Linked DNA regions of Homo sapiens: region 2 is linked to region 1. Evidence: fine-mapped expression QTL. Tissue or cell type: pancreas. Region 1 holds a variant in brackets; the other region holds the start of a gene. All regions are shown on one strand. Distances are from middle to middle.

The links. PIP is the estimated chance that this variant, and not a neighbour inherited with it, causes the effect.
Region 2: MTUS1 starts here. The variant in region 1 is fine-mapped to the expression of MTUS1 in pancreas (GTEx, PIP above 0.99).

What each region holds. Positions count from the first base shown.
Region 1 is chr8:17,611,863-17,617,150 of GRCh38, forward strand. The region is part of intron 2 of PDGFRL (platelet derived growth factor receptor like); the gene reads left to right. Among named protein-coding and RNA genes, the nearest start is that of PDGFRL, 37 kb to the left of the region's middle. The variant T/C (reference allele first, on the strand shown) is at 2,467.
Region 2 is chr8:17,798,066-17,803,353 of GRCh38, forward strand. It overlaps MTUS1 (microtubule associated scaffold protein 1), which reads right to left and starts at 3,029. Exons shown (of 15, transcript NM_001363059.2): 1 at 2,996-3,029. MTUS1-DT (MTUS1 divergent transcript) reads left to right here and starts at 3,277. Exons shown (of 3, transcript NR_186403.1): 1 at 3,277-3,677. RefSeq lists silencers at 3,143-3,262, 3,343-3,402, 3,443-3,632.

The sequences.
Region 1 (5,288 bases):
GAGAGAGTCAATGGTGATAGCAGCCTGGGTGACAGGTGGAGTTGCAGCTCGGTGGAAAGAACTAGAAATGCCGAGAGTGGGAACCAAGTAAGAAGGAAGGCTTGCTAAGATCTGGGAGCCTGGGTTAAACTCCAGGGGAGGTGGCACAGCCTCGGCAGGTCCACACAGGCAGGGGAGCAGAATGGCTAAGAAACAGCCATGCTGCACTCCAAATGATGTGTTATACTCCAGTTGGCAGTGTTTCCATTAATCAGAACAAAATAATACACAGTAGTTTTAGGCCTCTAAAGGAATTCTTGGTGGCCCTGCCTGTTGGAAATTCACATTTTAAAAAGGCAACACTTTGTAAAACTAACCTCCAGGTATTTAAATACACATGAGCCCTTGTGCTTACGCATTTATGCAGTATCTGTTTCACACTTTATAAGCAGTTTTACTTGTTTTGCTTTTATTATAGCTTTTCTTTTCTTTTCTCTCTTCCCTCTTCCTTCTTCCTTCTCCTCTCTTCTCCTCTCTTTTCTTTTTTTGAGACAGTGTCTCACTCTGTTGCCCAGGCCATAGTGCAGTGGCATGATCTCAGCTCACTGCACCTCTGCCTCCCGGGTTCAAGCTATTCTCCTGCCTCAGCCTTCTGAGTAGCTGAGATTACAAGCACCTGCCACCATACCCGGGTAATTTTTGCATTTTTAGTAGATATGTGGTTTCACCATATTGGCCAGGCTGGTCTCAAACTCCTGACCTCAGGTGATCCACCTACCTCGGCCTCCCAAAGTGCTGGGATTACAGATGTGAGCCACCACACCTGGCCCAGTTTTTCTTTTCTTATTATAAAATAACACATACTTATTTGATCTAGAAACTTAAAAACTATAAATAAGCAAAAAGGAGAAAGATCACTGAAAACCCCAAGAAACGTGGTTAACACAGTAATGTTGAATCTTCTAGTTTTGTATTTAGTATAAAAAAGGTATCAAAATCTGCAAACTCTTTAATGACTAACTTTCCCCCTAATCTGTTGTGAATATTTTTTATGTGTAAAGTTATCAAAATATTCTATCTCTTTTATGATTAACTTTTCCCGTAATCTATTGTGAATATTTTTATGTGTAAAATTATCAAAATATTCAAACTCTTTCATGATTAACTTTGCACCTAATCTACCATGAATATTTTTTGTGAGTTATGGCTGTAATACTGTAGTAGGTTTAGCTAAATCTCTTGGGTCTCTCCATCTCTTAGATCATGCCCCATTTTTTACGATCACTGTCATTGCGGTAGCTAACATCTAGGTAGCAAGGATCTCTTCCTCTGGGTGGAATTGTTGGGCGTATTTTAAGGCCTTTGTTCCAGGTGGTTGGAGGGGATTTTCTGTTGGGAGGATCGCTGGTGTGTCAGGTATGGTTTTGGTTTGTGGTGTCAAGGGGATATACGCTTCTCATTTTCTCAGAGTCTAGAGAATATCTGAAGGAGGAAGAGGAGCTTTTCCTTTGTAAAGGACCTGGATATGCTGGACAGAGGGTCAAAAAGAATGATGACCCCAGCAGGTGACAGAGGGGAAATGAAAAGGGAAGGGGGACTTCGCAGTATGGCGGGCAGAGTCCAGGCAGTGCCAAGAATAGGACCTGCAGGGGTGAGAGTGATGCCGGCAGGGCTGGAGGGATGTAGCGTGTGCAGTCTCCCGTGAAGTAGTGGGGAAGTGCTTAGGGTGACTTCTTTTTCAATAATCCAGAGAAGCCCAGGCGCAGTGGCTCATGCCTGTAATCCCAGCACTTTGGGAGGCCGAGGCAGGTGGATTGCTCAAGCTCAGGAGTTCGATGCCAGCCTGGGCAACGTAGGAAGCCCCTGTCTCTACAGAAAAATGCTAAAATTAGCCAGGCATGGTAGTGTGCACTTGTAGTCCAAGCTACTCAGAAGGCTGAGGTGGGAGGATGGTGTGAACCCCACGGAGGTCACACCACTGCCCTCCAGCCTGGGTAACAGAGTGAGACCCCATCTCAAAAAAGAAAAGCTACCTTAAAAATAATAATAAGATAATAATACAGAGGAATCTGGCATAAGTGATTGCAGTAGAGAGACCTGAGCCACATTTCACAACGTAACTGGTTGTTGAGGTGGAAATATTGTATCACATTGCAAGGATTTTGAATAGTTCCTTGGATAGTATGCAAATGTGGAGATAGATGATAGATAGATAGTAGATGGGCAACAGACAGATTGACAGATGATAGATTGATAGATGATAGATCAGTAGATGATAGGCTGATAAATGATAGATTGATTCGTAATAGATAGATTGATAGATGATAGAGGAATAGAGCTATTCCAGCCTAATTTCTGATACAAGAACTATATTCACTTTGAAGTCCTTTAGTTTGCATATTTGTTTCCCTGAGATCATCATGCATATTTTTTCTTTCTTTTTTAAAGAAACATAAACAGTGACAGTTTCAGTATGTTTTACCCAGC[T/C]GTCTGTTTCCCAGGATCTGTACTCTGTTCATATGGCACGTTTCCTGCATATCATTCAGCCATTCTTCTCTGACACGTTCTGAGACGGAGACTTACAGGAAATACAGGCCCTGTGTAAACACTTGAAACACAGACAAGCAAATACCCACGAGTCTTTATCGCTCTTGATTCTTGGCACAGTTCCTTGCATGTGGTAGAGGCCTAACAGTTTTTCACATGAATGTAGAATAAGGAGGATATTTATGTTTTAATTTTGTAAACTTGTTTAGAGACAAGGTCTCCCTCTGTTGCCCAGGCTGGAGTGTAGTGGCACAATCCTAGGTCACTGCAGCCTCCAGCTCCCAGGCTCAAGTGATCATCCCACCTCAGCCTCCCAAGTAGCTGGGACTATAGGCTGGCATCGTGACATCCAGCTAATTTTTAACATTTTTGTAGAGATGGGGGTCTCTCTTTTTCCAACAGAGGCAGCACAGAGCGTTCAAAGCAGAAAATCTTTGTTTATCTACCTGAGGCACCCTGGGAAAGTTGTTTGAACTGAGCTTCAAATTCTTCTCTGGCAGCTCCAACACTTCCTGTGTAGCCTTGGGAAAGTTACCTAACCTCTCCAGCCTGTTTGTTCACCTGCCACGTGGGGTTAATAATAGCACTTATCTCTCAGGGCTTCATGAGGATCAAATGAGTCAAAATGGGTAAAGGGCTTACAGCATTGCTTAGCACATATTAAACACTGCTTAAGTTTCAGTTATTGTTATAAGTCTCATCATTGCCATCTCACGGGATTGAGAAAAAGTAAAGTGTCTCTTCCGTATTGCCAGTTATGAAGTCGATGCTTAATAACTGATGGGTGTCCCATTCTTGTTTCCTTTAATTAATTACCGGATGGTTTAGTGTTGACTTAATAGAAAACAGTGTACCGTTTCTACTATGGAATTTAAAATTCTGAGCTCATTTAACTGGATCTCTCATATTTTTGTTTGTGATTTGGGAGTGTGTGTGTGTGCATAGCTATACTTAGCAGATTTTACAAGCTGTTAGAGGTGCCATCACTCAGTCAAAATTGCTTCATTTCATTTCATTTCTGTAGGATGAAAATCCATGCCCTCTTAATTTATAAGTGTTTGTAACCTGAGTCTGTGTGACACTAGATTAGATGCTCTGCCACTCAATAGCTGAGTAACTTGGACAAGTTGCTTCTCTATGTTTCGGTGCCCTCAAGCAGTAAAAGGGGAAAAATAGTACCTCCAACTTAATGTAGCTGTGAGAACCAGGGGGACCATAATAATGACAATTTCTAAAGTGTTTCGAGTCTGGGTGTGGTGGCTCATGCCTGTAATCCCAGCACTTGGGGAGGCTGTGGTGGGAGATTGCTTGAGGCCAGGAATTCAAGACTAGCCTGGGCGACGCAGCAAGACCCTGTCTCTACAAAAAAATGTAAAAAAATTAGCCGGATGTGGTGGCACATGCCAGCTACTCAGGAGGCCAAGGTGGGAGGATCCCTTAAGCCTAGGAGTTTGAGGCTGTAGTGAGCTATGATTGCACCACTGTACTCAAAGCCTGGGCAAGAGAGCGAGACCCTATCTCTAAACGAATAAACAAGATGTATTGAGCACTTCTCTGTGGCAGATGCTGTTCTAAGTCCTGAACTTGTTTACGGAGCTTGGCAGCGTGCCTGCACTCAACAAGCATTAGCTATCATTATTGTTACTACAAGTCTGAAGAGTAGGTGAAGCCAGACTGTGGAAGACGAGCTGTAGCTAAGGACTCTGAAGGTCATGGTGGAGCTGGGATTTGAATCTGGTCAGTAGGGTTCCAAAGTCCATGATTTTATTTTATTATTGTTATTATTTATTTATTTATTTATTTATTTATTTATTTATTTATTTCTGAGAGGGAGCCTTGCTCTGTCACCAGGCCGGAGTGCAGTGCCGCAATCTCAGCTCACTGCAACCTCCGCCTCCCGGGTTCAAGCGATTGTCCTGCGTCAGCCTCCCCAGTAGCTGGGACTACAGGCATGCACCACCGCGCCCAGCTAATTTTTGTATTTTCAATAGAGATGCGGTTTCACCATGTTGGCCAGGATGGTCTCGATCTCTTGACGTCGTGATCCACCCACCTCGGCCTCCCAAAATGCTGGGATTACAGGCATGAACCACTTGCGCCTGGCCCAAGTTCATGATTTTATGCCTTTCACCACAGTCTTCAGCCAACTTGTCGTCCAGAATAACATCGCTTTGTTCTGCACAAACTTGCCTTTTTTCTTCTCTCTGGAGACCTCCTTCCCTGGGACTGCATGCCCTCGATTTGCGCATGTTGACATCCTTCCTTTGTACCAAGACCCTCTTGGCCTAGAGGCTCTTGCTGGTTACTCTCCTCGGAGTTCTCATGGCATGTTGTGTAGGAGAACTCGGGAGCAGGGACTTCTCTAGACATCATTGCATCCCTCCTGTCCTCTCCAGCACCTCCCATTTATTTTGTACTTACTAAGTATGTGTGGGTATAATACCAATGAATCATTATCTTGTAACCCAAGGCTCACCCTTGCCCTTGGCTTGCAGAGTCTTCACCGGGGCAGACAGGAAATGGACCCCACTACTATTAACTGGCCACTGCCCCAAGTAAGATGCACCGGTCCCTATATCTGAGGACTGTCAGCTCCCTCCTCTGTGCCATCTCATGACTTAGGCCACCCCCAGGAGAGAGCAGCCTGGGCTAAATACAGGAAGCTTCAGTCCTCCACTGATGGGAGCAAGACTCTGTGTGTGTTAAGGCCAGGGGAGCGTGTTGGAAGCCATGCACACACATACACATACACGGGGTCTTAA
Region 2 (5,288 bases), 190 kb after region 1:
AATCTGGCAAAATGATACTACAAATAGATTACTGACAATAAATGGAGTGTGAGCCTACTTTGTATAATCACAGAATAACAGATCTGAAAAACATTCAGTCTTAGGGATTTAAAACTTTCTGCTCTGATTTCAAAGGATGTTGTTCCTAATAGTATATACCAGGCCCAGTGGCTTCTCATCAACAAATGCAATTAGTTTTGCAACAGTCTCTAACCCAAGATATGGAAGTTCTTGCAATGAATTTGAAAAGATTCTAATTTAGAATTTGGGGAATTTTTTTTTTTTAAGATGGAGTTTTGCCCTGTTGCCCAGGCTGGAGTGCACTGGAGTGATCTCGGCTCACTGCAACCTCCACCTCCCGGGTTCAAGCGCTTCTCCTGCCTCAGCGTCCCAAGTAGCTGAGATTACAGATCCATGCCAACACAATTGACTAATTTTTTGTATCTTTAGTAGAGACGGGGTTTCACCATGTTGCCCAGGCTGGTCTCGAACCCCTGACCTCCTGATCCGCCCGCCTTGGCTTCCCAAAGTGCTGGGATTAGAGGCGTGAGCCACCGCACCCGGCTGGAAAATTTTTTTTAAATCTTCTACCACAGTCACATATAGTTCTGAAGCTACGATTTAGAAGTGTTAAAAATTCTGTTTTGAGAAAGTCAACAGATTTATCAACATTAAAGAAATTTGTGTATGTCAAAACTACTGTAAATATATAAAGCAAAGATAAAATGGGAAAAGTATCTGCAATATGAATGGCAAAGATTTACTATCAATCCATAAAAGGCTCTTATGAATTAATGGAAAAATACTAATATCCCAGGAGAAAAATCTGGCACTACATCAAATTTCAAAATGGAAAACAACTAGATTTCTTTGGTGTTCAAATCATCTGTAATCAAAGAAATTGAAGTTTAAATATAGAGAAAGCACTGTTCACCTATAAACCTGGGAAGAATTTTTTTTTTTTCCCTTTAAGGATGATTCTACATGTTGACAAGAATACGGTAACACCAGTATTCTCACAGAGAGCTGGTGGGAACATAATTTGGTTAAACATTTTTTGGAAAGCAAATGGTCAATATGTATGAGGAGATCTTCCAACCATCAACTGTATTTCAAGGGCACTAAGGATATTAACCCTGCACATAAAGTTTTAAAAACGTATTTGTTGCAAAAGTATATTTAGTAAGTGGAAATAAATGAAAACCAGTTTGATACATCTATGTAATGTAATATTAAGTAGCCACTAAGATTTCTGAAGATTTCATGACATGGAAAATTTTTCATGATACATTAATCAGGAAAAAACCTCCACGCAATAGTATATTTAGATAAACTATATAACTATAAAAAATTTTTCTATATATTAACAAGTATTTTCTTAAATATTAACTGTGATTATCTTTGCTGAAATTGCTTAACTCACTTTTCTCAATCTACCTATTTTTATACAGCAAGCACGGATTACTTTTGAAATCAAAACAAACAGGGTTAACAGAACAGGGCTATTAAGTAACAGGCTTTTTAAATGCTTGAGTGTAATAACTGCAGGTTAGTTTCCAAAAAATATAAGATATTATCTAGAATCTTATAATCCTATTATACTCCAAAATGTAACCTTGACTTATTGACATAATTAAAAGGTCTTGTTCCAAGCATGATTTTCTACCAAGCAGATTTACCAAGAATTATTTTCTCTTCATAAACCTGATTTTAAAAAGAACAGGTGAAAAAACGTGGTGCAAGTTACATAAATAACTACATATTATTTTAAACTAAATTCCACTTCTAAGGTTTTTTAGCTTTGGTTTTAAGGATAAGCATGTAGTTCTAATCTTTTCTTTGTATAGCTTTCCTAATGGAATATATTGCCTATGAAAAAAAAAAAATCTGTAACAGCACTTTCTACACTGTAAAGCACTGTACTAACAGGACATCACCATTTTAAGTTGTGTATCATTTCCTGCCCTAACCATCCCTGAAAAAGCAAACTGTCTACAGAATTGCAATTCCGTTTATGCAATTCCTTTTAAAGTTGTCCATGCACTGTTATCTTGTATATACCCTCCTTAAAGAGGTCACTGGTTCCCAGGAAGCAATGACTCTCTTTTTTAATCCCCTCCCTCCTGCATTGCCTCCCTTCCTCCTGAAATTCACTGGTAACACCCCTACTCCCACCCTCCAGCCCCAGCGCTGTGATTTAGTGATGATTGACTTTCGATCACCTGCACCTGGCAAAACTTGAAAGCTTCCACGCACCGTTTTGCCTAAGACTTTGGTTTCATTGAAACAAACAAAACACACTGGATTTCCTTTCTTAGAACACTGACTACTTCAAACAAACAGTATTTAACAGAGTATGTGTAACTACGCAGGCTAAATGAATTAACCTCTTCCTTCCTAGTCCCAAATTACTCCAAGTCAAAAATCAACAAACAACTTGGTAGAAAGGAGTACGTCTTCAAAAAAGAACAAAAACGTTCCTCAGTGAACACCTAAGTCCACTAAGCACTATAGAGTAGTCAATAAGGTCACCTTAATTAAGATGAGATTTTTCTAGAGCGTGAAAAAGTGCAAACAAGCTGCAGAAAGTAGCGAGGCGCCACGAGGGGTCTTTGGGACCTGCAGCAACCCTATTCCACCCGCTTTCTCGGCCCCGCTTGCTTCTGCTGAGAAGGGGCCCTGCGAGAAGGCTGGGACCGCCGGGCCCGGGTGGGCGGCGTAAGGAGTCCACAGTCAAGCCCCTCGGTCACTTTCAAGGTGACAGCGACGAGATCCGCATCCGTCCCTTCCGCAGGCTCTGCGCTGGCCCACGTGAGACCCGCCTCCGCTCCGCCGGCGCTGCCGCCCCCTTTAGCCCTCAGCTTCGGCCCCCAGGCCCCTGGAACGCCCCCTCCCCTCCCCGAGGACCGGTCCCGTCACCCTGGGCGGCGCGCTCGCCTGTCCCCTCCCCACCCCGGCCGCCGGGCAGCGGGAACAGATTCCAGCGCGCACTTACCCGCAGCTCCTTCAAGCGCTCCGGGAGCAAAGACGCAGAGGCGGGGAGGGCTGGCGCCCTTTGCACCACTGGCGGGGTCGCCGAGAACCCGCCCCGGAGGTCTCGGGGGCGGCGTCTGCACCTGGGGGCGCGCGGCGCGGCACCACCCCACGCCTGCGGCGGCTACCAGGCGGGACCCGGAGCCCCGGCCTCCCCGCCTCCCCGCCTCCGGGGCCGCCAGGGGGTGGAGCAGGGCGGGGAGTTCGGGAAACTTGTAAATAGCCGAACTCGGGCCTCCCGCCCCAACCCGGGGCGGCTCCTTCCGAAGGCTCCACTCCAGCGGCTCGCTGCGGGAGACCAAGGCCAGCCGCCGTCCCAGGGGACGGCCCTCGGGGAACCTGAATGACGTGCGAGGCCGTACCTCGGGGCGCTGGACTCCGCTCGGGCGCTCCCGCTCTCCGCTCCCGCTCTCGGGTCCCAATCCCGACGCTCCGCGCGCTCCCGGACTAAGTGCGGACGCGCCCCACGCCCCCCGGCGCCAGCCCGGGACAGCGCTGCACCTGTTGCCACGTGCGACGCGGCGCTCAGCGGCTGCCACTGCCGCCGGCGCACCTGGCTGCACCGCGCGTCCCGGGACCACGCTCGTCCCCGCAGGAGCCCGGGGCTCCGCCGCACCCAGCGCTAGGGCCCAGGCCGGGCCGCGGTAGGTGGGGGATCTGACTCCTGCTTGCCTCTGGCCACCTGCAGGCCGAGGGGCCTCGCACCGCGGGGCGTATAGAAGGTGGGAAGGTTGCAGAATTATCAGGGCGGAAGCTTGCAAGGAAGGAGTCGTGATTGTCTCTTAGAAGGGCTGATTCGCAGTCTGTATTATCTTCATGCTTCTAGCAAGTTTACTAGCAAGTGTGTATTAAAGGTTAAAGAAAGTAGCTTTCCAGCTATTAGAGCTTGAGATACAACGTGGAAAGGAGTCTAGAACCCCAGGGAGATAAACTAGGCTCGACCTACTTTTCTCTAAACACAAACACAGTCCTTGCTGTTTGCTAAACTGAGCAAATTTCATCGACAGCTGTCTTCTAGGTCCGTAAAATATTTTCTTCTATAAAGCATATTTTTAATAGAAAACTTGTCCGAAGATGCTATTCTGCCTGTGAGAGATGTCACATTGCTGAACCGTGAAATGTCAGACAACCTGAGAACAAAATTTTAATATTTCCTTTTTAATTACCTGGATTGTGGTTTGCTAAAAGCTTTTAAAGAGAAGTGAACTTTTTTGGAGAATAGACGTAAGGACTCTGTATTTCACAGTTTTCTATACCATGAATATTAGAATAACTGACAGATGTCTTGCCATTGATAGTTGTAAAGACTTTTCATATGTACAATGATCCATTATTTCCTGACTACAAAACCCAGGGGTATATAGGTCAGATTATCTCCATTATTCAAATGAGGAATTGAAGCTCAGAAAGGTCAAGTGACTAGCGCAAGGTCACACAGCCAGTGAGGGCAAGTGCAAACCCAGCCAGCCTAACTCCTAATCTTCTCTTTTAATTCCATTACATAATGACACCTCTCATTTGCTTCAGAAATCCCTGTTGTAAAGATAGATGCAACTAGCATGATCCGTGTTGTTAGGAAAGGCATGTGATTAATTTTAAATAGATATAGTATTTAACACCACCAGATGAGTCTCCCTCTGAAAAAGCACACAAAAACAAAACAAAACGCTGACATAGTTTCCGCAAGTCACGAGGCAATTATGCTAATTAGCAACAAGCCTCCATCCCTAAGCAGAATAGTTCTTGTGTGAAACATATCATTTAATCTTTATAACCCTGATGTGACCTAGATGATTTGGTCTAAACCCCACAATCCTATTGTGTGGCTTAGTTATATCTATAAATATAGAACCTGTTTTACTTCATTTTTGTGTCAGGTGGTTTGAAGGGGGGAAACATACAATGCTCTGCTAAGTAATTAGAGCTACTTACGCAGGCATTGGGGAATCTGAAACTTAGCTTCTAATTGTCTCCACATAAAAACAGAAGTTAACTTCTAGGGACATCTTCAGGGACTCCTCAAGGCAAATATTCATGAAATGGGGCCTATTGGCTTTTCTTTTCATCTTGGTTCTGGGCATGTTGCCATGTTCCTGATCTCTGAACTCTGATGCTGACCTGCTACAGACTCCAGGAGCAATATTAAGGATAAAATAATAACTCACATAACTTTGTGGCTCTTTATTCTAAAAAAAAAAAAAAAAGTTGGCTCAATTTTTTTTCCTCCATAAGAAAATGCAAATTGCAACTGTATT